Homo sapiens: one gene and its partners. The protein of the gene in region 2 purifies or fractionates together with the protein of the main gene of each other region. This does not show direct contact. Each region holds a gene or a part of one and is shown on either strand. Other genes may lie near its edges.

Region 1 (3,655 bases), on a different chromosome or scaffold from region 2:
ATTTATGTTTCGTGCATAAGGAAATGGGCGTTAGCTTCCCCAAGACCCCAGGAGCCAGGCATTGTTCTTACCCCAAAGCCTCAGGTCAGACTTCTGCTGCTTCACGTTAGAAGTCATGATCTTTTGTATTATGGTAAAGGGAGCTTGGAAAATTAAGTACTTTTAATTCCATTTAATGTTTCTTTCAGTCTTGAATCCAGATAATAGTTTTGAAATACTGGTTGACCAATCTGTGGTGAATAGTGGAAATCTGCTCAATGACATGACTCCTCCTGTAAATCCTTCACGTGAAATTGAGGACCCAGAAGACCGGAAGCCCGAGGATTGGGATGAAAGACCAAAAATCCCAGATCCAGAAGCTGTCAAGCCAGATGACTGGTGAGTCTTGGGGAACTGTCTTCAAGTGTAAGGGAGCATTTCATATATTCCATGTGGCTTGAACAACGAAATGTTGGTTGAGTAAGCTCTGATAATTTCAGTAATCCATGATGCAGTCTAATCTGTAGGGAAAATATAGAGTACTATAGCTGGAAAGGGGCCATAGTGTAATCATCTGGATTGACTCACCATTTTACAAGCCACAGAATGCCACACTTGATAAGAGTTTGTCTGTGGTGACACTGTTGGTTTGTGGCAGAATCTCAGGTCCTTTAACCTGGCTACTCCAGGGCTTCTGTGAACTCACATTTAAAGCCAAAGTTCTGAAATGCTAAATTTTAATTTGAAAAATAACCTTTTTCCTATTTAAACAACAGTCAATTCTCTGCTGTGGGTTGGGTGGTAGAATACAAAGCCACAAGGACACCACCATCTGCCTACACAGAGCTTGAAGTCCAGTTGTGAGGCATGATGTTGGCATGTGGTATCGTAAGGGTTCATGAGAAGGTGCCACAGGAGACCAGAGCACCAGGTGTACCTAAACTAGGCATGGTTTCTTGGAGCAAGGCAAATCAGATTGAGACTTGGCAGTGAGGTGAGAATTAAGGAGTTGGTGAATATGGGAAGGGGTGTTTCTGATTGAAGAATGTCGTATGCAGAAGTAGAGGAGCAGCAATGAGCTTGACATGCGAGGGAGAAATTACATGGCCTTTTATGTAGGGTGCACATTGAAGAGTGAGGAGAAATGAAGATAGCTGGGGCTGTATTCTTGTATATGGCTGTCTTTGAACTTGCAACTTCACACAGTGACTCCAGAAATGTCAGAAAGTGAACAAAGAAATTCTTACCCTTTGTAAAATATCCTCCTATGCTTAGCAATTACATTCTAGATTATCTTTTTCCTCCTTGAAAGGTAAGATACATATAACTGAACTTTTGTACTGCACTAGTATAAATGCCAAGTTTACTTGTATATTTGGTGTATATTAGATTTGGACTTAGCCTTGTTCAGTATTATATTCCTTAACTAGCTTTATCACCTAAGAAGGCCCCTGTACCCATTAAGCGGCCACTCCCTGTTTCCTCCCCCAACTCCCAGCAACCACTAACCTGCTTTCTGCCTCTCTACATTTGTCCACTTTGTATATTTCATATAAAATGGAATCATACAGTATGTGGCTTTCTCTGTCCAGTTTCTTTCATTTAGCACAGTGTTTTCCAGGTTTATCTGTGTTGAAGCATGTATCAGTACTGCATTCCTTTTTATGATTGAATAAATTCTACTGTTTTGATAATGCCACATTTTATTTATCCATCCTTTGGTGGACATTTAGGTTGTTTGCTCCTTTTTGTCTGTGATTATGAATAATGCTGCTATGAATGTTCATGTACTGGTTTTTACATAAATATGTTTTTTCTTTTCTTGCTTTTTTTTTTTTGAGATGGAGTGTAGCTCTGTCGCCCAGGCTGGAGTGCAGTGGCGCCATCACGGCTCACTGCAACCTCTGTCTCCCGAGTTCAAGTGATTCTCCCGCCCTAGCCTCCCAAGTAGCTGGGATCACAAGCGCATGCCACCACACCCAGCTAATTTTTGTATTTTTAGTAGACACGGGGTTTTACCATGTTGGTCAGGCTGATCTCGATCTCCTGACCTCAGGTGATCTACCCGCCTCAGCCTCCCAAAGTGCTGGGATTGCAGGCGTGAGCCACCACACCTGGCCTCTTTTCTTTAGACATGATCTCTGTGTTGCCCAGGTGGGAGTACAGTGGTACGGTCACGGCTCACTGCAGCTTCCACTTTCTGGGGTCAAGCGATCCTCTCCCGCCTTAGCTTCTCAAGTAGCTGGGACTGCAGGTATGCACGCCTGGCTAATTTTTATGGGTTTTTTGTTTGTTTGTTGAGACAGAGTCTCGTTTTGTCACCCAGGCTGGAGTGCAGTGGCACGATCTCGTCTCATTGCAACCTCTGCCTCCCGGGTTCAAACGATTCTCGTGCCTCAGCATCCCAAGTAGCTGGGACTACAAGCGTGCACCACTGCACTCGTGCCTCACCCTCCAAGTAGCTGGGACTACAAGCGCGCACTACTACAAAAAATTCTTGTATTTTTAGTAGAGATGGGATTTCACCATGTTGGCCAGGATGGTCTCAAAATTCTGATGTCAAGTGATCTACCAGCCTCAGCCTCCCAAAGTGCTGGGATTACAGGCGTGTGCCACCGTGCCTGGCTGTGCATGTTTTTTCTTTTTTTTTGAGACGGAGCTTCGCTCTTGTCGCCCAGGCTGGAGTGTAGTGGCGTGATCTTGGCTCACCACAACCTCTGCCTCCCGGTTTCAAGTGATTCTCCTGCCTCAGCCTCCTGAGTAGCTGGGATTACAGGCATGTGCCACCACGCCCAGCTAATTTTGTATTTTTAGTAGAGATGGGGTTTCTCCATGTTGGTCAGGCTGGTCTCAAACTCCCGACCTCAGGTGATCTGCCCACCTTGGCCTCCCAAAGTGCTAGGATTACAGGCATGAGCCACTACACCTGGCTTAATTTTTGTATTTTTTGGTAGAGACAGGGTGTCGTCATATTGGTCAGGCCGGTCTTGAACTCCTGTCCTCAGGTGATCCACCCGCCTTGGCCTCCCAAAGTGCTGGGATTACAGGTGTGAGCCACCGCACCTGGCCTTGTGTATTTTTTTTTTTTTACTAGAGACTGGGTTTCACCTTGTTGCCCAGGCTGGTGTGGCCTCAAGTGATCCTCCTGCCTTGGCCTCCCAAAGTGCTGAGATTACAGGCATGAGCCACTCTGTCTAGCTATAGATATATATTTTCATTTCTCTTGGGTATATATACCTAAAAGTGGAATTGCTGGGTCATGTGGTAACTAACTTTTTGAGAAACTGCCAAACTGTTTTCCAAATGAGCAGTACCATTTTACTTTCCCACCAGCAGTGTATGAGGGTTTCAGTTTCTCTGCGTTCTTTCCAGCATTTGTTTTTATGAGTCTTTTTTATTAGAGCCAACTTGGTACTAAGTGGTATCGTTTTGATTTGCCATTTCCCTGATGGCTAATGATGTTAAGCATCTTTTCGTGTGCTTATTGTATGTTCATATTGTATATTTTTACATTCGTATGTCTTCTTTGGAGAAATGTCTATTAAAATCATTTGCCCATTTTTAAATTGGGTTGTCTTTATATTATTGAGTTGTAAAGAGTTATTTTACTAGGCCCTTAGCAGATATATGATTTACAAGTATTTTCTAAGAGGAATTATTTTAAATTTTGAGATTA
Region 2 (3,483 bases):
ATCTGTGGACCAGGAAAGGCTTTCTGAAAACAGTGATGTATTAGGTTGTTTGACAGTATTCCAGGCTCAGAGAGCAGCCCATAGAAAGCCCTGAGGCAGAGAAAAGCATAGCTTATTTGAGGAGACAAAAGTTCATCATGGTCAGGGTGTAGCACTAATGGAAAGAAAAGGGTTAAAGATGATTGAACAAAGTGATTTTTAGTTTACTTATTTGTTTCTATGTTTGGCTAGGAAGCCTGCTATTCTAAACCATTAATTCGAGAATCCACATTTGAAAGCCTCAAATTTAATTTGATGTATGTACATTTATTGGGTAAGATGTGATTCCTGACCTCAGATAACTTAGAGTCTGACAGGAAAGATAAGACACATTTTTGTAGTATTATAATACAAGTCAGAATGTACCTTAAGGGAAAGACAGAGTGCCATATGAATGCAGGAACACCTGTGCTGGATTTGTTCCTGCATTCATTTCTTCAACAAATACTTAAATAGTATCTTCTCTGGGGTTACAAGGATGAACAAGACACAAACTTTAACTTCAAGGAATTGATTCTACTAAGCAAGGCACATACATAAATCATTAGAATTCTTTAAGCACAGAGATAGAAATATGCACAGGCTATGATGAGATAAATCAATGGTTTTATTTTATTGAGCACTTATTAAATACTTTACATGCATTTCCCATACCCCCCTTACTAGGTAGGTATTCTATCCTCAGTTTTCAGATGAGAAAACTGGCACTGAGAGAAGTTAAAGCAATTTCAGAGGTCCCAACATTTGAAAGTTGAGGATACGGAATTCAAACCCAGTTCTTACTCATGACAAGCCCCAGGCTCCTAACCATCCTACATAGAATCCTGCTTCCCAATCTCTCATAGTACTCAGGGCAGAGCATCTCATCTGAGCCAGGCAGAGATGACAAATGCCTCCCTGAGCTTAGTTTAGGGATTAGGAAGTGTTGGGGAGGTGAAGGGGGGTAGGTGGGTGCCCTAATAGAGGGACAAGCTGAGTAGACCCAGGAGGAAGAAAACTATCCAATGTTAGGGTATTATGTCCATTCTAGGCTGTTGGAGATTAAGCCAGGAGGCAGAAAATGGCCAGAAATATGCCTGGAGAAGAATTGGGATCATGCAGGATATAGAATGTATAGTGGGAAACAGAACTGGAATTGGATTTGCATTTTAAAGTGATTACAAGGGCAGCTGTATGGAGGATGGCATTGAGGGAAATGAGAGTGGGAGAGAAGTTCAAGATTATCGTAGAGTTGTAGACAGGAGAAGGTGAGAGTCTGAACTTAGATATTAGCAGAATGGATGGGAGGAGAGGAGAAGCTTGAGAAAAAGTCAGGCAGTGAAGTTAATGGGCTTTCTGAATTCTGTGGCTGTGAGGAGTCAGCTTAGGGAGAAATCGGGGTTGACTTCTAGGTTCCTAACTCAGAAGATGGAGTAGATGGATGGTGTTGCCACCAAATAAGGAGAAAGCAGGTTTGGGGGTTAGGTGATGAGTTCAGCTTTGGTCATGTTGAGTTGGAAGCTCCAGTGAGACATCTAGATGAAGCAGTCCCACAAGAAACTGGGAATCTGAATCAAAGTTCGTGATAGAAACATAGCCTAGAAAAAGATTTCGGAACCATCAGCCTAATGGTGGAGCTAAAGCAAGGAGAGTGGAAGAGAGTCCCCAAGCAGAGAGGGTAGAGCGAGCTGAATGTGGGATGGTCATGCGGGGCAGGCAACTCTTGGAGGGGGCACCCATGTGGAGGTCCTTAAAGAGGAATAAAGGACACTTCAGGTCGTGTAATAGTGTGAGCAAAATAGGGGAAAAAGCAAGAGGTGTTTTCAGAGAATGTAATGGTTCCATGTGGCTGGATAATAGTGGGTTTGATGCAGCTATCAGGTGATTAAGCTGGGAATGGGTTATAGTCTTGAGAGATTGAGGCCAGGCAATGAGAATGGAATACAATTCAGCCTTGAAAAGAAAAAAATTCTGGTACGTCCTTCAATATGGATGAACCTTGAGGACATTATGCTAAGAGAAATACGCCAGTCACAAAAAGACACATGCTGTATGATTCCATTTATATGAGGTATTTTAAGTTATCAAATTCATAGAGACAAAAGGTAGAATGATGGTTGCCAGAACTGGGGGAGGGCAAAAAGTGAAGTTGTTTAATAGGTGCAGAGTATCCATTTTTCACAAGGAAGGAAGGTATGTGATGGGATAGTGGTGATGCTTGCACAACTACACTAAATGCTGCTGAACTGTACACTTAAAAAATGGTGGCAAGGCATGGTGGCTCATGCCTGTAATCCCAGCACTTTGGGAGGCTGTGGCGGATGGGTCACGAGGTCAAGAGATCGAGACCATCCTGGCCAATGTGGTGAAACCCAATCTCTACTAAAAATACAAAAATTAGCTGGGCGTGGTGCTGTGCACCTGTAGTCCCAGCTACTCGGGAGGCTGAGACAGGAGAATAGCTTGAACCCAGGACGTGGAGGTTGCAGTGAGCAGAGATGGTGCCACTGCACTGCAGCCTGGGCGACAAGAGTGAAACTCTGTCTCAAAAAAAAAAATAGGTAAGATGGGGAGGGATAGGAAAATATTCATTAAAAGGATACCAAAAAATGATAAGGTGATAAAATTTTATGTTATGTGGATTTTGCCACAATTGAAAATATCAAAAGAAGAAAAATGCAAAGAGAAAAGAAGTAATTTTTAAATAAATAAATAAAAAAGGCAGGACTTCTATTCAGAGGCTATTTCCAATAGTTCTGAGGAGAGCCAATGTGGTTAGAATTGGGTAGGTAGCAGCAGAACTGTTAGTGGACCCACATGAAAGGGCTGTGTTTATATGTCAGAGTCAGTCAAATGTTGGCAATGTCATATGGTTCAACCTAATAGAAAGGCAAAAAGAGACAAATCCTTTAATGAAGTTCAAGAAAATATACATTATAACCATTTAAGTTAAATTGCAAAATATTTCCTGGGGCACTTGCTCTCAAACTAATAACCAAATAGCAAATATTTTCCATTTTCAATCATCTTAGGTCAATTTGAAAACAGCTTTTTAGTTTTTATTGGAGAAACTCATATTGTCTTCACTTGTTCAATGTGAAGTTGAGTTGCCAAAATTGCCTTCAGTACACATTTGTCTTTTATATTTCAAACAGAGGAAAGTTTCCATTTCCCCATTTCATTCTGAAAGCTTTCAAAAAGTTTGGGCAGTGCCCAGTGCTGTCCCCGTCCCTCACTTCATCATTTCAGCTCTAGTTCTTGCACTTGGCAGACTTCGGACGCCAAGTTTCTGCTTCAGTGCTGGTCAAAATCCCACAGAGGACTTTGGTACCAATACCCACTGACAATTCTCTGAGCTGAGAGTTGTTAACTTTTCAACACAGTGACAGAATGAAAAGAGCAGGTTGTATTATCATTTATAATCAACCAGGACTTAAAAAATTCACACACACACGAGAAGTACCC
Region 3 (3,655 bases), on a different chromosome or scaffold from region 2:
TATCTACTTTCCTCACTAGCACTGTTGGATTCCTAGAGAAAACAAAGCCCTTCGTCCAAGGTTAGTATTAATTGCATTTTTTTCCTTTCATCATTTCTTACTTGTTGGCCCTCAAATGTTAGTTAACTGAAGGCTATCTGGCTACATCCATGTATCTATGGTTTGCTGCTCTGAGATGGACTTAATTTTTCTTCTTCCTCTTTTTTATTTTTGGTATCAATAAAGCCCAGATATTCCTGGTCAGTGATGCCTTTATTATTCCTGTTTCCTTTGTACTCAGTTGCTTCACTGGGTTTAAGGCATGCTTTGTGTATTTAGTTTGCAAAAATAAAACTTTTAGTACAAATTTTTTTTATACAAACTTTTATGGCACAAGCAGCAAATCTGCTGTTTTAAGAAAATATATAAATATCCTTTTCTTCTGTACAAATATCTCCAGTATTCCCTACCCCATTTTATAATTTTAACTGTACATGGTCTGCCTCATCCTTCTCTAATAGCTCCCTCCCCCCCTCCAGATCTCAACCAAATTTATATTTACATTTTTACGTTGGAGGCAGTCAGAGGAGGAGGGCCCCTCCTCAGGAGGAGTCTGTACAGGGAGAGGGTGGCGGTGGGTAGAGGTGATGAGAATAGCTCCTCTCTGTGTATGGAGAAGGTGGGCAGCTTTCATAGTTCTCCTCTGCTGACAAGTATTGGCTTCGGGGTGTGGGAGGTGGGGGCACAGGTTCTGAATCATAGTTCAAGTCACTGGTATAGCCCTTGGCTGTTGCCACTGAGGTCATTCTCCGACTAGGAGCATAGTCACTGTCACAAACATCTGTGCTGCAGGGTGTGGTGGGGGGTGCAAAGTGCCGGTAGCTATATGGCCTGTAGCTGGTATAGGGAGAAAATAAAGAGAAGCAGTTAGTTTTACAAAAAAAAATGATTTCCCCTCTCAGAATAGAGGTATTAGATGTCAACTACCCTATGAAAACAATAAGCTACTGCAATTTAAATTTACACAGACCAAGAGGCAATTTTCAATGGCAGATTCGCTGAGGAAAATAGCAGGTACTTTCTTATTTGCAAATAAGAAAGTGGCAAGTGAAAATGAACAGGATGGGAATGCAGAGGTGAATTCAATCTAGCCTCTGGTTGTGCTCTTACATCTTCAAGTTAAACTGTATCACAGAATAAAAAATGACTATTCAAATTTGTTCTGCAGTTTCATAGCCCATGGGAAGAATGGGTTTTTACATATTTTACACTACTCAAACATGTCAGCATTCCCTCAACATTCTTTACTCCAAAATTAACCTGATGAATAATTAATTTAATGACATCTGAAGTCTTCATTTCTTTCTTCTGTACAATTCTGTACAATTTCTGTACAGTCCAGGCTGGATTTTGGTAGACAGCCTCAGGGGCATAACTATTCCATTGTTGTTATCTTAGCAAAGGGAAATTGCTGTGATTGGGGGAAACGGTTTTCATTCCCTGTGTATAGGTAAGTACCTCTCATAAGAGCAGCTTTAAACATCAAAATGATAAAATTTAAATGCCCATAAAGGGTCAGTGAATTTTCTAATGTATATTTCAGAGGCCTAGTTTATTTCTTACACTTGTTTATCTTTACAAGTGACATACAGTTGTTAGGTTTGTAGCACTGCTAACTAAAGAAAAAGGCATTGGAAAGAGAGAAACATACTAGTGAAAATAAGATCTGACCTAAGTTCTGGCTTTTCTGTCATTCCTACTTCTATTTTTAACTTCTTATACCTGTTTATTCTAAATATGGTAAAGCTGATCTTAAATTTATCCCAAAGATTTTTTCATAAGCTTTCTCATCAAAGTGACTACAAGAGAAGGGGAAAACCAAGTTAAAAACTGATACAACGATTCATAAAACACCTAGTGATACAGAGCACCACCAGGTAATATATCCCAGGAACCCAGGATACAAACCATTTGATATCACTTGGCTTGCTTCAAAAGAAATGGCTGCCAGATTGTTCACAGTCACAGATCAAATTCCTTGTTCTACTCTGTCTCCCCTTCTTACTACTGCATTTGATTAGTCTTTAAAAAAGAAAGAAAGAAAGAAACCAGCCTGGGCACCATAGCAAGACCCCGTCTCTACAAAAAATAAAAAAAAGCTAGCCAGGCGTGGTGACACACACCTGTAGTCCCAGCTACTTGGGTGGCTGAAGCAGGAGGACTGCTTGAGCCCGGGAGGTGGAGACTGCAGTAAGCTGTGATTGTGCCCCTGCACTCCAGCCTGGGTGACAGAGCAAGACCCTGTCTCAAAAAAAATAAAAATAAAAATAAAAAGGGTGCAAGGCTGCCAGAGACCAAAAGTTATATGACCCACTGAGTGAGTTCTCAAAGGCTTTTACTATCAATACTGACATGATGTCACAGTTTGTTTTGTTTAACTCTTTGTCCAATCAGGTGTCAATCCTTGGTGAAATTTCTAAGGTCAACATTTAAAAGTCCAAATACTTCTATTTTCATGAAAAAAAAAAAAGAAAACAAACTGAATTAATAAAATTTTTTCATGTCCCAGTTTAAACCAAAATCTCAACAAATGATGTAAGTTTTGACTCAGAGGAAACAGAAATTGGGCTTATACGGAAAATAGTTAAGCAAGAATAGTTTTTTATGCAATCGTGTTTATTCTGATGAGTGCCTTAGTCAATTTGAATTAAGGACATTACTTTTAAAAAATAAAATTTTGTATCTTTCTCCTTTCTCAATTTTCAGGCTTCTGCTTTTTCTGTTTTGGCTTCCTAGAAGAAGAAACTTGTGGCAGGGAAAGCAACATTACAACATATCATTAAAACAATCAGTTCACAGCCAAGGCTATTTCAGTCTTATCTAAGCTGAAATGAGAATTCTGAGTGAGATACTTTAAGTGGTTTCCACTTCATTTCTACACATGGGTGAGGTCGTATCAGGCCAATTTGACTGAAATGCTAGGAAAGATAATAGAAGATTATCTAGAGAGGATAGAAGATAGAAAAGATTATCTAGAAGATAACAGGCACTTGAGGGATGCCCATGAACCCTGGGCACTTCAGTGTGTAGATAGAAACTCTCAAGCTACTGATGGTCTGTTGGCCTTTCAAGGAACATAGAAGTGGAAGCTGACACAACAGTACTTGACCTGCTCAACACACTTTATAGACTCATAAATTAGCAAAAAGGAATAATTTTCTCTTTTTTGGCTTACAAATACACTTTATTTATTTCAATCTTTCTTTATTCCATGCAACTACATGAGAAATCTTTCACTCCAAATTGTAATAGCATATGCAAGCAATGGCTGAACTTACATTTCTCTCAACTTTTCTAAAATTCTGTGCTCTGAGTATGTTGCTGTTTTAAACTCTCAATTCTATGAACCAATCTTATCCCAATATTTCATTCTTAGAATATCAAACTATTTTGAAACCAGTCACTTTGGTGGGTAATTCCTCCTTAGAATACTGCCAAAGCCTGAGGCTGTATTTTATTATTATAAAAGCCAGCATTTGTGACTCTCTTAAAAAAAAAAAAAAGTATAGGCCAGGTGTGGTGGCTCACACCTGTAATCCCAGCACTTTGGGAGGCCAAGGCAGGCGGATCACCTGAGATCAGGAGTTCGAGACCAGCCTGGCCAACATGGTGAAAC

What was found.
Region 1: the proteins of CHST9 (region 2) and CANX purify together in Homo sapiens (affinity purification with mass spectrometry; 4 studies listed by BioGRID and IntAct, with this or other methods). This does not show direct contact.
Region 3: the proteins of CHST9 (region 2) and LRP6 purify together in Homo sapiens (affinity purification with mass spectrometry; 4 studies listed by BioGRID and IntAct, with this or other methods). This does not show direct contact.

What each region holds. Positions count from the first base shown.
Region 1 is NC_000005.10:179,715,917-179,719,571, forward strand, and holds part of CANX (calnexin isoform d precursor), read left to right. Parts: coding exon of another isoform or gene 1-84; intron 85-188; coding exon 189-378; intron 379-3,655. UniProt on the Homo sapiens protein: Calcium-binding protein that interacts with newly synthesized monoglucosylated glycoproteins in the endoplasmic reticulum. It may act in assisting protein assembly and/or in the retention within the ER of unassembled protein subunits.
Region 2 is NC_000018.10:26,905,853-26,909,335, forward strand, and holds the end of CHST9 (carbohydrate sulfotransferase 9), read right to left. Parts: 3' UTR 629-3,483; downstream 1-628. UniProt on the Homo sapiens protein: Catalyzes the transfer of sulfate to position 4 of non-reducing N-acetylgalactosamine (GalNAc) residues in both N-glycans and O-glycans.
Region 3 is NC_000012.12:12,120,545-12,124,199, forward strand, and holds part of LRP6 (low-density lipoprotein receptor-related protein 6 isoform b precursor), read right to left. Parts: intron 2,785-3,655; coding exon of another isoform or gene 2,735-2,784; exon of another isoform or gene 2,638-2,734; intron 2,062-2,637; coding exon of another isoform or gene 1,971-2,061; exon of another isoform or gene 1,948-1,970; intron 877-1,947; coding exon 582-876; 3' UTR 1-581. UniProt on the Homo sapiens protein: Component of the Wnt-Fzd-LRP5-LRP6 complex that triggers beta-catenin signaling through inducing aggregation of receptor-ligand complexes into ribosome-sized signalosomes.